Homo sapiens: one gene and its partner. The protein of the gene in region 2 interacts with the protein of the main gene of each other region in a pairwise test. Each region holds a gene or a part of one and is shown on either strand. Other genes may lie near its edges.

What was found.
Region 1: the proteins of ARHGEF9 (region 2) and TBC1D22B interact in binary tests that used the Homo sapiens proteins (3 or more experiments, as listed by UniProt).

The regions. Positions count from the first base shown.
Region 1 is NC_000006.12:37,263,998-37,267,829, reverse strand, and holds part of TBC1D22B (TBC1 domain family member 22B), read right to left. Parts: intron 1-3,832. UniProt on the Homo sapiens protein: May act as a GTPase-activating protein for Rab family protein(s).
Region 2 is NC_000023.11:63,652,567-63,656,398, forward strand, and holds part of ARHGEF9 (rho guanine nucleotide exchange factor 9), read right to left. Parts: intron 3,172-3,832; coding exon 2,928-3,171; intron 1-2,927. UniProt on the Homo sapiens protein: Acts as a guanine nucleotide exchange factor (GEF) for CDC42. Promotes formation of GPHN clusters.

The DNA of each region.
Region 1 (3,832 bases), on a different chromosome or scaffold from region 2:
TAAATCCTAATGTAGATTTGCAAATGTTAATAGACGAATATGGATGTTTTACGACAGAAAATAAAACCAAGAAAAATAATATAATCAACTAGAAGCAGGTGGGAAGAGAGGGGTGAGGAAATATACTTACTAATTTCATCATTACTCATGGTAGGGAGCCAACAGGTACTGTCTGAAGAAATATGGTATAAAGTTACACTTATAAACACAATCACTAAAATAAAAAGATAAATCTTCCAAATTATCAGAATATATATATGTGTGTGTGTATATATATATGTGTATATATATATTATATATATAGTGTATATATATATTATATATATAGTGTATATATATTATATATAGTGTATATATATTATATATATGTGTATATATATATTATATATGTGTGTATATATATTATATGTGTATATATATATTATATATGTGTGTATATATATATTATATATGTGTGTATATATATTATATATGTGTGTATATATATATTATATATGTGTGTGTGTATATATATATATATATGTATGTCCTCCCCTCAAAAGCAAGCACAGTCCACATAGTGAAAGACTTTTTTAAGAAGAAAATATTTTTAAAAGGGCAAGCATGGTAGCTCACATCTGTAATCCCAGGACTTTGGGATGCTGAGGTGTGAGAACTGCTTGAGGCTAGAAGTTTGACCAGCCTGAGCAACGTAGCAAGACCTTGTACCTACAAAAAATTTAAAAATTAGCCAACTGTGGTGGTGCATGCTTGTACTTCTAGCTACTTGGGAGGCTGAGGTGAGAGGATTACTTGAACCCAGGAGTTTGAGACTACAGTGACCTATCATCGTGTCACTGCACTATAGCCTGGGCAACAGAGTAAGTCCTTATCTCAAAAAAAAAAAAAAAAAAAAAAAAGACGAAGAAAATATTAAAAATTGAACTTAAACTAAATAACTAAATATATCAGTTATTCCAATAAATATAAAGGAGCTAACTTACCTATTAAAATAGAAAGGATAATTACCAACAGGAAAGTAGTTAAATAAATTACAGTATATCTTTTAAAAAGAATGAGGCAGTTCTGGCCAGGTGCGGTGGCTCACGCCTGTAATCCCAGCACTTGGGGAGGCCAAAGCAGGCAGATCACCTAAGCTCAGGAGTTCAAGACCAGCCTGGCCAACATGGTGAAACCCCATCTCTACTAAAAAATACAAAAATTAGCCGGGCATGGTGGCAGGCACCTGTAATCCCAACTACTCAGGAGGCTGAGGCGGGAGAATGGCTTGAGCTGGGGAGGCGGAGGTTGCAGTGGGCCGAGATTGTACCACTGCACTCCAGCTTGGGGGACAGAGCAAGACTCCGTCTCAAAAAAAAAAAAAGAATGAGGCAGTTCTATATTCACTGACATGAAATAAACTCAGACATTAATTGAAAAAAGATGCAGAACTACATGTATGACACCATTTTTATAAAAATCTTTAAAATAGATACATGCATTTTATGTATGATTAGGTCTATGTATCTGAAAGAATATCAGAGTATCTGAAAGAATACAAAAGACACTGGTAGCAGCAGTTTGGAATAGGAACCAGATGACTGGAAGATGATGGGACACCAAAGAGACTTAGTTTTCACTGCAAACCCTTTCTGATTTAGTATCATGTACAAGTATCACCTTTATAAGAAATAAGCGATCTTGAGAAGGTTAGAAGGTTTAAGTGGGACGATATGTTGAAAGCCCTTTAGCACAATTCCTGGTGGGTGGTAATGCTAATTTAATGTTAAGCAGGAAGTGACGTAGATTTGCAAATGTTAGAACACTACCCAGCAAACACTCAGTGCCCAAGAAATGTTGATTTTCTTCCTCCCTCCCATTTTTATAATTTAATCCATACTCAACATTTAGAAATTGAAACAAGCTTACCAAATACTTGTTTCACATAACAGAGGTGATCCTAAAGGATGCTCTTAAATAAAAATATAGCCAAATCAATCACTTTCACATTGATTCCTATTAAGATTTCAGAGGAAATCTTACATATAATCTTTAATTTATGAATACAGTCCCTACTTCTTTAGCTATAAGAATCTTTACTCCCTAAACCTCTCTGGAAGATTAATAAGTAATGTGTAAGCAAACTATTACATATATTACTACAGAAATACAAACTTTGAAAACAATACTAATTGATGTGTTTAAAGGGTTTCCTAGGCAGAGAGAAAAAAAGAGGAATCAAAGAGTAAAGGGAAAGTTCTGCTGAGAGAGGAAGGGGGTGTTAGACACCCCCACTGACCACGGGAAAAAAAAAAAAACCCAAAGGGCTACTGATATGCACATTAGCAGCTGCAAATAATCTAAGAGTACACCTGAATTCTTCAAGCCCACAAGCCCTCCTCACAATAAAATATAAAATCAGAGGATAAACTGCAGGAAGATCTCAACAGGCCGGTTAGGTAAGGTGACTGGGTAGAAAAATAAGAGAGTATTACCTTAAAGAAGTATTACCATCTGCCAGTAACCCATGCAGAAGAAAAGCAAACCTAATTTGTGCAGGCTGAAGGGCCAGAGGCCATCAATTACCATCTAGGAAAGGAATCTTAAAATCACAGTAGACTATTTTTTAAAGCTGTCAGCCCAAGGTGCTGGCATAGCCAGGAAGGCTAAGATAAATGATGGACTTCATCAGCAAAGGTATCAGGGCCCAAATTGAATTTGTTAACATATTCTTGAACTGAACCATGATGTATCTAAAACTGGAACACTTTGTATAATAAATCAGCTTATTGCAGCTTAAAAAAGACAGGCAAGAATTTAGAAAAGAGAAACCGAGATGATCACAGAGACTAAATGGAGATAGACCAGAAGAGCCCAATGATTAAGGTGCTCAATTTCCTGACATTTATAATTCACCTTTCACTGTCTGTACCATACCTACTCCTTCCAAACCCAAACTCAGCTCTAAGAAAGACTGATCTCCACTCCACCTTCCAAACTTATTAAACCCATTATTAAATAAGGCTCTTTTCCCTACTTGGAATGCTTTTCTATTTTCTACATCCCTTTTCAAAATTGTATCCATCCTGCAACATTCTCTTCAAATTCTACACCCCTCATGAAACTTTCCATACCCCTACCCCCAGCATCTACTAACTCATGTCTTCTCTAGTTCCCTAACATACATAAATTAGGGCTTATATTACTTTTTAAAAATAAACTAGATTTAGATCATAATATAAGACACAATCAGGGCTGGGCACTGTAATCCCTGCACTTTGAGAGGCCGAGGCAGGCAGATCACTTGAGTCCAGCAGTTCGAGACTGGCCTGGCCAACACAGCAAAACCCCATCTCTACTAAAAATAAAAATTAGCTGGGCTTGGTGGCACACATCTGTAATCCCAGCTACTCAGGACGCTGAGGCACAAGAATTGCTTGAGTCTGGGAGGCAGAGGTTGCGGTGAGCCGAGATCGTGCCATTGCACTCCAGCCAGGGCAACAAGAGTGAAACCCCGTGTCAAAAACAAAACAAAACCAAACAAAACAAAACACCCTGGCATACCCCTCCCTCCCTTCCTAGCAAGCCACTCTATTGGATCTGGCATTTTTCACACTCATTTTTATATTTTTATTTTCTATGTATGTATCCCTAAATAATGTATGATTTTGCATGTTTTTTAAACTTTATATAAATAACATCACACTGTAAATATGACTTATTTTGACTCTAAATCATGTTACTTTAAATTTTACTTAATTCCATGGCTAACTGGCTGATCTCTCCAACACAAGTTAAAAAAAAAAAATACAAAACATTTGCTCTAACACAAGTGAAAAAGCATTTAATTGAC
Region 2 (3,832 bases):
CATACCAAGAGATGACTGTGGTTATTACATAATATTATGGAATGTTATACAGCTGTTTATAAGAAAAGTGTGATGAATTTATTGATGTGCCCATTCGACTAGACTGTAGTCCTCACTAATGTAGGTGTTGCCATGAAGGTATTTTACAGATATAATCAAAGCCCCTGATACGGTTTGGCTCTGTGTCCCCACCCAAATCTCATGTGGAATGGTAATCCCCATGTGTTGGGGGAGGGGCCTAGTGGGAGGTGATTGGATCATGGGGGGAATTTCTCCCATGCTGTTCTCATGATAGTGGGTGAGTTCTCACGAGATCTGATGGTTTAAAAGTATGTGGCACTTCCCTCTTGCTCTCTCTCTCTCCTGCCACTATGTGAAGAAGATGCTTGCTTCCCCTTTGCCTTCTACTATGATTCTAAATTTCCTGAGGCCTCCCAGTGATGCTTCCTGTTAAGCCTGCAGAACTGTGAGTCAATTAAACCTCTTTTCTTCATAAATTACCCAGTCTCAGGTATTTATAGCACTGTGAACATGGGCTAATACAGGCCCTAATCAGTTGACTTTATATAAGGGACAATATCCTAGATAATCTGGATGGACCTGACTGAATCTGTTGCAAGACCTTAAAAGTAGAGCCTAGGTCTCACACAGAAAGGGCAGAAATTCTACCTGTGCACCACAGCTTTAGCCCATGTCTGTGCCACTTCATCCTTCTCATGAGCTTCTCTTCCTGACTGCCTGTAGATGACAGCTTTGGCCTATGTCCATGGGTTTGAGCCTGCCTGTGATCCTCCATTTCTGACTGCCTGCTCTATGGAATTCTGAGCCACTTAGTCAACATTCACAATCACATAAGCCAATTCCTTGTAATGCAATTTTCAGCAGTGGTATGATATATCTCCTACAGGTTATGCCTCTTTGGTTGAACCCTAACTGATACAAGGGGTTATAGTTAGATTCTATATTATTTATCTGGGGAGTTACTTATGATAAATTAAGTTTAAAAAAGCAACCTACAAGGTAATATATATAATATAATTTTTGTAAATATAAAAGTATTATGTTTGTATATGTTTATATGGACATGAGATAAGTATGGAAAGATGCATACTGCACTGTTAACACTGGTTATTTCATTCAGTATGGAAGTGACAGAGAAGGGGAAGGAATGCTAAGTTTTCTTTATATATTTCCATATTTGTTTAAATGGTTATAATGGTCATGCATTAATTTTATAATTAAAAAGTAAAAGTTTAAAAAAGCTATGATAAAACTATATGACCCTCATAAAATAATGATTAAAAATATGAAGTGATCTGATAGAAATGCTAATGATATAATGATGAGTGAAAATGAGGATACAAAATTATATCTATCCACTATAGAGAGGCAGGTATGGGGAGAGAAAGAAAAAAGATTCAGTCACCTTGATTTTTCTAATTAGACACATAAAAAAGGCTGGAAATATATATCAAAATGTTTATGAAAGTTATTACTGAGTATGTTCATGTGTTTTTTTTTTTTCTTGTACTTTTCTGTTGCTTTTTCCCTAAATTTCCTACAATGGAAGTGATTTACTGTTATTATCAAACCAAAAAAAAAAAACCTCAACATTTTTAAAGATGAACATATGCCTGTTCAGAAAGTAATTTCTAGAAGCTTTTCTATTAGAAGCAGATAAAGTCACAGGTTTATTAGGGCATTGTGTGGGAGACATTGTGTTAGAGCCAATGGGAATGGCAGGGGCCTTCTAATTGATTCAGGGTCTGAACACTAAGACCATTCCTTTAATAACTCTAACAGCCTAGGCAAGGTCAGTGGCTGCTGCTGCTTGCTATTGAGAGAAGTAGCCAGCAACATTTATATGCCACTCCACATCATGTCCCAATGGAGTGTCCACATACTGAAAGCAGTCTGATTCCAATGAGACTCAAAGTGAGTTATTAATTTGCACTCTACCCAAGTTCTGAGGAGAAGACTGGAGTTAGATTTGTCTTTCTGACCATCCTTTCTTACCTCTGGATAATTTCAATCGCCCACATGGAAGGATAAGAGAACCCTTTTGCACCAGGATTCAATGAGTAGGCCCATTTTTCTAGAGACAATTTCCATAAACTTGAGCTTTCAGGCCTTCTAAAGTACAATTTCACTCCCATAAGCAATAGGGCAAAGACAGAAACTGTATGTCTTCTCAGGGAATTAACAAGTCTGGTTGCTTGGTATTTTTTATGACAGAAAGGCAGGACCATGAGCAAGAGACCAGACAGTACTTTATAAGTCACAAAGCTATAGCCAATGGCGTCTAAATCCCACAGTTGGGAAGCAACATGAAAAATATCTCTACTATCTATATCCCCACTGGAAAAGAGAAACAACTTATTGTAAGGCAAAAAAGTATGTTTCAGTGTGATTTGAAATCATGAAAATGGTCATGGTTTTAAGTCCTGTTATATTTTCTATAATTTACTTTAAATACTTCCACACAGAAAGTGTGAAGTGTATGTGCATATTATTTGAATCTACAGTCTAGGGGGATTTAGTTAACATCTGAAGTATCCTAATCAGGAGTACAAACTATATACCTAATGACAGAGAGCTCAGGCTTTATGAAGATTACAGAACAGGTTGTATAACTGATTTTTGTTTATTTGCTAATAAATGTATGTTTGGGAGAATCAAGCCTGAGGCTGGCTTTCAGTGTGATATTCTTAGCTAGTAGGGGAGGACAACCTATAGTTCAAACCTACCACTGACTAATGGAAGCTATTGGTACTTACCAAAAAGAACCTAATAATAAGGAACCACCAAAGTAGCTTAAGTCAGTTTGCAACAGAAATCTTCCCTCTGACTCCAAGAAAATGGAAACCAATTCAAACCTCCTATGTTCTTCATAGCCATGTTCTTCTTTCTACTCTCAGGTCACTTACCAATTTTTTCATCTTCCTGTACCATTTTCCTCTCTTCTCTGAAAGCCCTGAGCCAGCGTATTTTTTCCTCCAGCTTCTTGGCAAAGAACAGATGTATCTCCTCAGTCTCCTTGTTGTGAAGCTTAAAGGCATTCTTCATGCTGACATTGAAGTCATCATCTCTGCCATCCTCAATGTCAACTACCTCATATTTATCCATGTCAATGCGGCCTTTGTAGTACAGGATGTCTCTCCGGATTAGGTCCTAGATGGGAAGGAAGAGGTTTCTTGAAGGTATGTGCACGGCGAGTACTAGAAGAGTTGGCACAGGGGCACAGCAGAATGCTAACACTGTCACCGTTTTGAAGTACCAATGGGGGTTGGTTTGTTCTAAATTTGGCCAGGTTATACTAGTAGTCTGACACTGACAGGTTGGTTAACTAGATGCCCAAAGAAAAAGCCTCTGTCTCACCTCGAAAGATCATTTCAGACACCAGAATCAATCCTTGGACGTGTGTGCAAGTCTGCTGATGGGAGGTAGGAAACAGTAAGCCACATAAACACGGCTAGCAAGGGCTTCTCCTTTTCGAAAACATCAGCAAGCCCACTAGAGGTATGAAATGAGCTGGCTGGTTGCCTGGAGTGTGTTCAAATATCTGTGCAGGCCAGTGAGACCTGAACATCAGAGGGGGACTGAGTAGTAAGAGTAGCTAGGAGGCCACAGACTGCTGGCAAAGGATTACCTAGGGGGGGTCTAACACTTAGCACTCTGGGGATTTTTAGAAAAGGCCCAGTCTGCCAAGAGAAATGGAGGTAAAATTAAATAAAGAAGTTCACATATCAACACAGATGAATGTCACAAATCTTATGGAGAAAAACAGAAGTTGTAGATGGATACAAACAGTATGTCGCCTATTTGTTATTGT